Linked DNA regions of Homo sapiens: region 2 is linked to region 1. A link means that fine-mapping ties the variant in region 1 to the expression of a gene that starts in the linked region. Tissue or cell type: neutrophils. Region 1 holds a variant in brackets; the other region holds the start of a gene. All regions are shown on one strand. Distances are from middle to middle.

What was found. PIP is the estimated chance that this variant, and not a neighbour inherited with it, causes the effect.
Region 2: VCL starts here. The variant in region 1 is fine-mapped to the expression of VCL in neutrophils (CEDAR, PIP 0.95).

The regions. Positions count from the first base shown.
Region 1 is chr10:74,049,954-74,054,953 of GRCh38, reverse strand. All of the region lies in intron 2 of VCL (vinculin), which reads right to left. Among named protein-coding and RNA genes, the nearest start is that of VCL, 54 kb to the right of the region's middle. The variant C/AC (reference allele first, on the strand shown) is at 2,580.
Region 2 is chr10:73,995,010-74,000,009 of GRCh38, reverse strand. It overlaps VCL (vinculin), which reads right to left and starts at 1,894. Exons shown (of 22, transcript NM_014000.3): 1 at 1,635-1,894. The coding sequence starts at 1,802. RefSeq lists enhancers at 942-1,593, 1,666-1,865 and silencers at 1,546-1,595, 1,926-2,285.

The DNA of each region.
Region 1 (5,000 bases):
TTGTTGTTGGTTTTTCTGTTTTTGTTTTTTTTTGAGACATAGTCTTGCTCTGTCACCCAGGCTGAAGTGCAATGGCGTGATCTCAGCTCACTGCAACCTCCACCTCCCAGGCTCAAGCAGTTCTCCTGCCTCAGTCACCCGAGTAGCTGGGCCTACAGGTGTGCAGCATCACGCCCAGCTAATTTTTGTATTTTTGGTAGAGACGGGATTTCACCATGTTGGCTACACTGGTCTTGAACTCCTGGCCTCAAGTAATCCTCCTGCCCTGGCCTCCCGAAGTGCTAGGATTAAAGGCGTGAGCCACCACGCCCAGCCTAAAATTTCACTATTATTACTTAAAGGTCCTTATGCTGAAAAAAAGTAGGCAATCACTGTTCTACAGTAGAATGTAATAAAAGAGTTACAGGCGTGGCAACCTAAACACAAAATGAAGTGATAGATACAATAAGAGGATATTTTTCACTTATGAAGAAAACTGGCAAAAACTAGGATGTAGATTAAAAGAAGAAGAACACAGTCTGGAGAAACAAGCCAACAGCAGGCTAACGTCTATCAACAGTCATTCTAAAAAAAGATAATTAGCAACAAATAATTAACAGAATTCAGAACCCAGAAGAATCACAAACTTGTAACCACCTAACAATATTGCTTTGAAATATGTAGAGCTAACACTGACAATTATAAGAAAAACAGACAGGTCTACAATTAGTATAGGAGATTTTTAACATATATCAATCATAAGCTGATAGTTGAAACAGACAAATTAGGCTATAAAAAATTGGACTAGTAATATTTATATACTGACCTAATTAGTATAAATAGAACTCTATACCCAAGCAAAAGAGAATATACTTTCTTTTCAAGCACACATAAAAACTCACTAGAACTGAGCTGTATGTAACAAAAGAATTTCCAAGAATTGATATCATACCAACCATGTCTTTGGGTACAATACAATTATATTAGAAATATAACAAAAGATATTAAAAAGAATTTTGAAAACTTTAAAAAATAATTTTAAAGAATTTTTAAATTCTCTAATTTAAAAATTAAAGTGGTACATGCCTGTAGTCCCAGCACTTTGGGAGGTGGAGGTGAGTGGATCACCTGAGGTCAGGAGTTCGAGACCAGTCTTACCAACATAGTGAAACCCTGTCTCTACTAAAAATATAAAAATTAGCCAGGCATGGTGGCGGGCACCTGTAATCCCAGCCACTTGGGAGGCTGAGGCAGGAGAATCGCTTGAACCCGGGAGGGAGAGGTTGCAGTGAGCCGAGATCATGTCATTGCACTACAGCCCAGGTGACAAAGCAAGACGCTATCTCAAAAAAGAAAAAAGAAAAGAAAGATTGAACATAAAGACTGAAATATTAAAAATAAGGTATTCAAATAATAAACTTGAGAAAAGTAAATAATAAATATGAGAAAAGAATTTAATGAAATAGATCTTTGTGGGAAAAGCTGGTAAGACAGATAAATCTCTAATAAGAGCGATAAGAAAAAAAGACAAAAGGCAGAAATAAGCAATACTGAATAGGAAATGTGATATAACTAGATACAACAGAGATTTTTAAAAGAATAATTATTATGAATTTTATGCTAATAAATTGGAAGGTTGGATAAAATTGGTAATTTCTTAGAAAAGTATCAGACTACCAAAGTTGACTCACAATGAATTTAGAACCTGATTTAGATAATAAAACAAAACTGAGCGAGTTTCTTTTTAGTCATATCTCTTCCTCCCAAAGACACCACCAGATACAGGGAGTTTTAGATGCAAGTTTTGCCAAACTTTCAAGAGCAGATAATCTTTATCTTACATAACCTGTTTCAAAAACTAGAAAAAGACCTTATTTTATGAAGCTAAAATAACTTTGATACCCAAACTAGAAAAGAACATAAAAAGAAAAGAAAATTACAGATAAAGGTCCCTCATGAGCAAAAATGCAAAATCCTTTTAAAATATTAGCAAATTAAATTCAGCACTATATATATATATATATATATTTTTTTTTTTCATCACAGCCAGGTAGGGTTTATCCTAGAAATGCAAGAATGGTTCATTATCAGCAAATCTATATTCATGTAGTAAACCATAGACTATCTCAACAGAGTAAAGGATAAAAATTGTGTAATCCACTCAACAGATACAGAAAGAAAGGGCATTAAATAAAAACAAGTAATCATGGTCCAATTCAAAAAAAAAAAAGTCTTACTACAGAAGACTACAAATTAGATAAAAAATATCTCTGAGAAAAGCTTAAAAAGTAACTGAAGGGCCAAGCACGGTGGCTCACGCCTGTAATTTCAGCACTTTGGTAGGCCAAGGTGAGCAGATCACCTGCGCTCAGGAGTTTGAGACCACCCTGGGCAAAATGGTGAAACCCCCTCTCTACCAAAATACAAAAAATCAGCTGGGAGTAGTGGTGCACACCTGTAGTCCCAGCTACTTGCGGGGCTGAGGCATGAGAATCGCTTGAGCCCTAGAGGGGGAGGTTGCAGTGAGCTGAGATCACGCTACTGCACTCCAACTTGTGCTACAGAGTGAGACTCCGTCTCAAAAAAAAAAAAAAAAAAAA[C/AC]TAACTGAAGAATTGAATCATTTATTTGGAGAAAATTATTAAGAAACAAAAATTAAGAAGCTATAGAAGAAAAAAAAAGAAGCTATAGAAGGGAGCTAATATGTAATTGAAGTAGGAGTCAGTACTCAATTCCAGAGGCAGGGCGTGGACACTGGACCACATAGAGGACTAGCTAAAGCAGGTCCAGGGTAAAAGCACCTCCCCATAAGACACACCCACCAGGGTGATAGGTCACCTTACCATTGCCACGGCAACACCCAGACGTTACTGCCCCTTTCCATGGCAACAACTGAACAACCTAGTAGCCACCACTTGCATTCTAGAAATTTCTGCACAAATCACCCCTTAATTAGAATATAATTAAAAGTGGGTATAAATATGAATGCAGAACTGCCTCTGAGCTGCTACTCTGGGCACGCTGCCTCTAGGGTAGCCCTGCTCCGCCAGCAGAAATGCCTCTGCTGCTGCTGCTGCTGCTGCTGTACACTGCTGCTTCAATAAAAGTTGCTAACACCACTGGCTAGCTCTTGAATTCTTTCCTAGGAAAAGCCAAGAACCCTCTTGGGATAAACCTCAGTTTTGGGGTTTGCCTGTCCTGCAACATAATCACCAAATGTTTCTTTTTGTTTGTTTTAGGTATTTTCACATATATCATTTCACTCATTTAAACCTCACAATAACTATTATGTTAGAAGAAGAGACTATTGTAAAGAAGAATGAGAAAGTACCTTAGCATACTGGAATGAGCATACTTGGAATCAAACAGTTCAGGGTTAGAATCCTACCTCTGCCATGTATGAACTGAGTAACTTTCAACACCTTACTGAGCTTCTCTTCATCTGAAAAATGAAGTGGACTAAATAACACAACTTAAAATACCCAGCTCATACAAGGTATTTAAGAAATTGAGCAGAGCTCAAGACCAGGCTGGCCAACATGCTGAAATCCCATCTCTACTAAAAATACAAAAATTAGCTGGGCGTGGTGGTGCGTGCCTGTAGTCCCAGCTACTCGGGAAGCTGAGGCGGGAGAATTGCTTGAACCCAGGAGGCAGCGGTTGCAGTGAGCCGAGATCACACCACTGCACTCCAGCCTGGATGACAGAGCAAGACTCCGTCTAAAACAAAAAACAAACAAACAAACAAACAAAAAACAGTAGTGATAGGCCAGCATTTTGGGAGGCTGAGGCAAATGGATCACTTGAGGCCAGGAGTTCGAGACCAGCCTGGCCAACATGGTGTAACCCATCTCTACTAAAAATGCAAAAATTGACCAGGCATGGTGGCATATGCCTGTAATCCCAGCTACTCGGGAGGCTGAGTCAGGAGAATCTCTTGAACCTGGGAGGTGGAGGTTGCAATGAGCTGAGATGGTGCCATTGCACTCCAGCCTGGGTAGCAGAGCGAGATTCCATCTCAAAAAAAAAAAAAAAAAAAAAAAAATACAGTAGTACTAAATTATGCTTAATGTGGCAAGTCCAAAGGTGAACTATTTAAAGTTTGAGTGCTTGCTCTAGGTCAAAAATGCAGCAAGGCAGTGGGCAGAGGTCAATGATTACATCACAGAACTTGGGCATCCACATTAAGAGACAAAAATCTTCTAATACTGTAGCAGTGGAAAGGACCACAAAACTCAGGACACACACACACACAAATCACACATTAGCCCCAGGCAAACAAAAGGTATTAAGTGATATGATTAAGTAATTAATTGTTAAAAAAAGATATTCTGGGCACTTTCACCCACAAGTGTGTTTAAAAATACAAATTTCATCACAAATTATTTTGAGTGTTCAAGATCACAAGCAAAGAAAAAGCTACAAGGCCTGATGACCTAAAAATGTGACATCATTACTTTAGGTCAAAAGAGATCTAAATTAAGTATAAAGCATATTTTAATCCTTCTCAAATTTCTTCTTTGTGCATGAATATAAATTATGGTAAATTTGTATAAGTAAATACCATAACTGTTCTTAACTAATAAAGTTTAAGGGTTAAAACAAAGAATTCCCAAGAAATGTGAATAATGGCAATCATGTAGCAGTAGTACATCCTTTCACATGGTATTTTGGGAACATTCTTTTATTCAATAAGCCTAGACATTACAGTATGCTTCAAAAATAGTCCAAGCTGGTGAACCAATCCAAGTTTTGACTTCAAGCAGACTGTCAGAGCAGCACTAAGGCAGAAAGTGACAACACTGTCCAGTTCGAAATGAAAGCTGTCATTTGCCTGCCAACAGATAATGTACACCATGCCCTTTTCAAGTTCATATCACAAGACCACCTCAGAAGTGATGCTTTTTGATCCATTCAGTTCTGAACATCCTTGGATCAGGTCCAAGAATTGCCTTCCTTATTCATTTCTGCTCCATTGCAGAAATAAGAATGAAATTCCACTGTATACAGCAATGACAATTTTT
Region 2 (5,000 bases), 55 kb after region 1:
ATTTCATTTCCTGAAGTACTACATGGAGAGACACTATTACCTTGTCTCTTTACATTGTTTCCTATTTGTTGAAAAATGGAGGCCTGGAATGCAGCCATGTTAGACAACACTACATAAGAATGTACTCTGGAGTGTTCTGTTCAAATTAGTTATAAAAAGAAGAACAATGTACAAGTAGACATTGTGAATGAATACAGCATTCTTACTGAATGAATAGATTCTTACTAAAGCTATAGAGAAGAAAGATCAGGAATTTGGTCGGTGGTGTCACCCTGTCTTCCTAGCTACCAGTCTCCTAAATTGCTTGAGACAGTCCAGGGACCCCTGAAGACTGAGGAAGACTTTCAGCTGCTAAAGAGCCTCTAAGTGCACTAAAGTGCTCAAATCAGAAAAGTAACCCAAGCCCCACCCAGACAGACCCACAGTTGCCGCCCAACTGCCCTGACACACACTATTTACACAGCTCAGTGGGGGAGCAGTATGAACTTTTTCCAAAATTGTTCCTCACAAGCAGGACCAGTCTGAGTCACCCACCCAGGGTGGGAAAGAAAAGTGTGACATTAGCCAGGGGAGTCTTGGGAGACTGGTCTCAGCACCTCTTTTTTCCCATTTCAGACGTGGGCTCCACCTCCTCCAGGAATCACCTCGGTTATGAGTCACAGCTGTGGGTTACAGGGGTCTGCAGAGCCACCAGGAAAGTTGTGGATGGGGAGCGGATGCCCCAGCCTTCTCTCCGGCAGGGGCGGCAGATCCCAGATTCCACAGGCCTCTCCCAACAGCTCCATCTTGCTTCCTGCCAGGAGGAGGGGCCAAGGAGGGCCCCCGAGTCTAGAAAGGCCCCAGTGGGAGGAGGCCGTTTGACAGCAGGTAACGCCAGGTGAAAATGTCCACAGGAGGGAATGAAAGGAAGGGCAGCAGGGCTGAGCGGAAGGAAAAACCGGGCTTGTGGTCACGAATGACTGCATAAAGGTGTGAGAGTGCCAGAGGAGTGAGCATAAGTAAAATGCCCAGGAGGGAGGAGGAGGCGACAGAGAGTGAGGCAAGTGAATAAAAGGGCGGAATACAGGGAGCTCTGGGGAGCGGGGGTGGGCGAGGCGGGTCTCAGGGTGAGGGGCAGAAGTATTAGAAAGGAGGACAACGTGGCTCAAATAAGGATCCCTAGAAGAGAAGGCAAGGGATCCGTGGGAAGGCCCGCTCTCCCTCCCCCGCACAGCCAGATCGAGGAGGCCTAAAAGGCGCTGAGAGCGAGGAAGTCAACGTGGGGGCGAAGCCTGCGCGGGGCAGGGACCCTCGGACATCCCAGCAACTCTCATTTATTGGGTGTCTGCTGTGGGCCACACGCCGCGCGAGGCACTCCACGAATAATACCTCGCCATATCTTCACGACAAGCCCGCAAGGCAGCCTTTTTCATGACTGCTCCCATTTTATAGATGAGGACACTGAGGCCCGGAGAGGCTCAGGACTCGCTCAAGGTCACAGGGCGGAGAAGAGGCCATTCGAACCCTCGGCGCCTGGCTCCGGAACCCACGCGGAAAGCCACGGCCAGCGAGCCGGCCACAGGCAGCCGCGACGCGGGCCGGGGCCCCGGGGATACCTCCCGCGCCCGCTCCCGCGCCAGGCCCTGCGCGCTCACCCGGACGAGGTTGCTGACGGCCGCCTGCACGGCGGCCACGGGCGCGGTGAGGTCAGGAATGGCTTTGCCGTCCACCTCGCCCTCCTCGTGCATTATCACCAGGTGGGAGATCTGCTGTGCCACCGGCTCCAGGATGCTCTCGATCGTGCGCGTATGAAACACTGGCATCGCGGCGGCGAGCGGGGCGGCGAACCGCGGGCGACAGAGAAGTAGGATCCACGGGGCCGGGAACCGGCGAAGAGACAGACTGTGCAGCGACTACGGAGTCGGGGCTTCCCTCGGCGTAACCAGCCTCACGGGCTCCCCGCCCCCTCTCGTCGCCGCGCCCAATGGCAGCGCAGCTCAGACCTGGGCCGCCACTCCTACTGGTCCCTTTTCGAGATGCTCCGCCCCAGCCACCGCGCCGCCAAACCCCGCCCCTCCCCCATTCCTAAGGGAGGGGCCTGGGATTGGGGCTGAGCCGCCGGGATTGCTACCGGATTCCCGAGCCCTAACGCCGGGCGCTCCTTATAAGGGCATGGTGGGAGCGGAGCGGGCCGCTGGAGCCGGCTGGTCCCGCCCCCGGGCCGCCTCCCGCCTCGGATCTGGGGGGCTCCGCCCCTCTGCAGAATCACCTCAGCGGGGCGGGGTCTCCTCACCTCAAGCGGCGCTAGAGTTTGATGAGACCAAGGGGTCTCCCACGTCCCCTCCTCAACTTTTCCCTTCACACGAAACCCTCAAAATACTCCTTCCATTCCCTCCCAGCAATGCATGGGAAGGTTTTTAGTAAAAGATTCAAACAGCAGAGGTGCACTGAGAAACAGCAGCGTCCCATTCACGTAAACGCAGACTCCGCCCCCTGCCCTCCTCAAAGACATTCTGTTTAACAGCTGGGTGTGTAGCCTTCTAGACTTGTCTATAGATTCACTTCTACATATATATTTTCTAACTAAATGAGATTAATAAACATTTTCCTGGAACTAGGTATGATTGCCCTTGATTAAAATGCCCTTATCTTTCACTGCTGGTAGAGGTCTACCTCATTCTTCTTAATGACTGCATGATATTCCATTGCATGAAATAAAACTATTTACAGAACCAATTTCCTACTCATGGACTTGGGTTGGGTCCTGGTTTTCACTATTAAAAAACAATTCTGCATGAATTGTACTTACCCCTGTGCTGTGCATCTGTGTATTTATCTAGCGCAAATGCCTACCAGGAAAGAGAAAAACGCAAAAGTATATGCATTTTATATTTTGATAGGTAAGACCAAATTATCCAGTTCCCTCACGCTTTGTATAAGACATCTTCCAGGCCGGGCGCGATGGCTCACGCCTGTAATCCCAGCACTTTGGGAGGCTGAGGCGGGCGGATCACGAGGTCAGGAGATCTAGGCCATCCTGTCTAACACGGTGAAACCCCGTATCTACTAAAAATACAAAAAAAATAGCCAGGCGTGGTGGCGGGCGCCTGTAGTCCCAGTTACTCATGAGGCTGAGGCAGGACAATGGCGTGAACCCGGGAGGCGGAGCTTGCAGTGAGCGGAGATCGCGCCACTACACTCCATCCTGGGCGACAGAGCAAGACTCTGTCTCAAAAAAAAAAAAAAAAAAAAAAAGACATCTTCCAAACGTCTTACTTACTTCAAATTCGCTTTTGCCCAAGCTTTCCCATTCTGAGGTAAACACTTTCAGTAATGCCTCCAAGCAAAAGATTCTCACATCAAATGAAAATTTTTGTCTAGTCCTACCACAACCACCACAGCTGTTTTCTCTGCCCATTACTTTGTGTTAATAGTATAAATATTTGGGTGATGGGGCCAGGCACGGTGGCTCACGCCTGTAATCCCAGCATTTTGGGAGGCTGAGGCAGGCAGATCACCTGAGGTCAGGGGTTCAAGACCAGCCTGGCCAACCTGGTGAAACCCCGTCTCAACTAAAAATACAAAAATTAGCCAGGTGTGGTGGCAGGTGCCTGTAATCCCAGCTAATCGGGAGGCTGAGACAGGAGACTTGCTTGAACCTGGGAGGTGGAGGTTGCAGTGAGCTGATACCGTGCCATTGCACTCTAGCCTGAGCAACAGAGTGAGACTCCCTGTCCAAAAAAAAAAAAGTTGAGTGATGGAACGATATGATTTTTTTATTTTAAAAATTATTTTATTTTATTTATTTTTATTTATGTTTTTATTTTTTGAGATAGGGTCTCACTCCGATTGTCCAGGCTGGAGTGCAGTGGTGTGATTTCGGCTCACTGCAGCCTTGACCTCCCCAGGCTCAGGTGATTCTCCCACCTCAGCATCCCAAGTAGCTGGGACCACAGGTGCATGCCACCACGCCCGGCTAATTTTTGTATTTTTGATAGAGACAAGGTTTCGCCATGTTGTCCAGGCTGATCTCAAACTCCTGGACTCAAGAAATCCACCTGCCTTGGCCTCCCAAAGTATAAATGGCCTCCCAAAGTATATATAGCCTCCCAAAAAGTGTATGATTTTGTTAAATCCTCACCCTGTCCCCACTTTGCTGATTGTATATTTATGTGTAGTTTAACTTGTTCTTCTGAACTATATATTTCCTACAGATTGGCAGGAAGACTCAGAGGCTTGATCATGTAATCATCTTTAATGCCTGACTGGCCATATTAACCTCCCAAAAAGAATATCACATTGCACATCCAGCCCATGTGCTCCCCAACATCCATAATCATACCCATTTCCGTCCCCCTGATTTCCACATTCACTGGCTCCCTCTAAAATCTTTCTTGGTGCCTGTTAGCATGTGTTAACACCAATGCCCTCCACAATCTGGGTCCAGACCAACCTTACTGCCTTCAGCTTCCCCACCTTAGACCCACAGACAGGCAGGTTAAACAGTGCAAACAGCATAAATTCAGAGCCATCCAGAGCTCAAGCCAGAACCCCAGCTTCACAACTTGATGGAGATATAACTCCGGCAAGTGGGATAATAGCACCGTCACAGAGCTGATGTAAGGGAATTTGTAAAGCACCTAGGAGACCTTCAGTAAAAGAAACCATTATCATTATTAGAGCAGTCACAAACTGACATATTCACAGTCTCCAGAAATTCCTGGTAGAGTTTCACTTTTGAGCTTTTCTCCACATTTCTTTCCCACCTAGAAAGCTATCAGTGCTTGTCTAACTCTTACCTATTGTGGTAGACAGAATTCTAAGATGTCCCCCGGGATTTCTCACTCCGAATATACACACTCTCCATAATCCCCAGGCTGTGACTATAAGGGATTTTACTTTCATAATCAGATTACATTATATAGCACAGTTGGTCTTAAAACAGGGAGATTATCCAAGTGGGCTTGACCTAATCACATGAGCTCTTTTAAAGCAGAGAGTTTTCTCTGGCCAGTTACAAC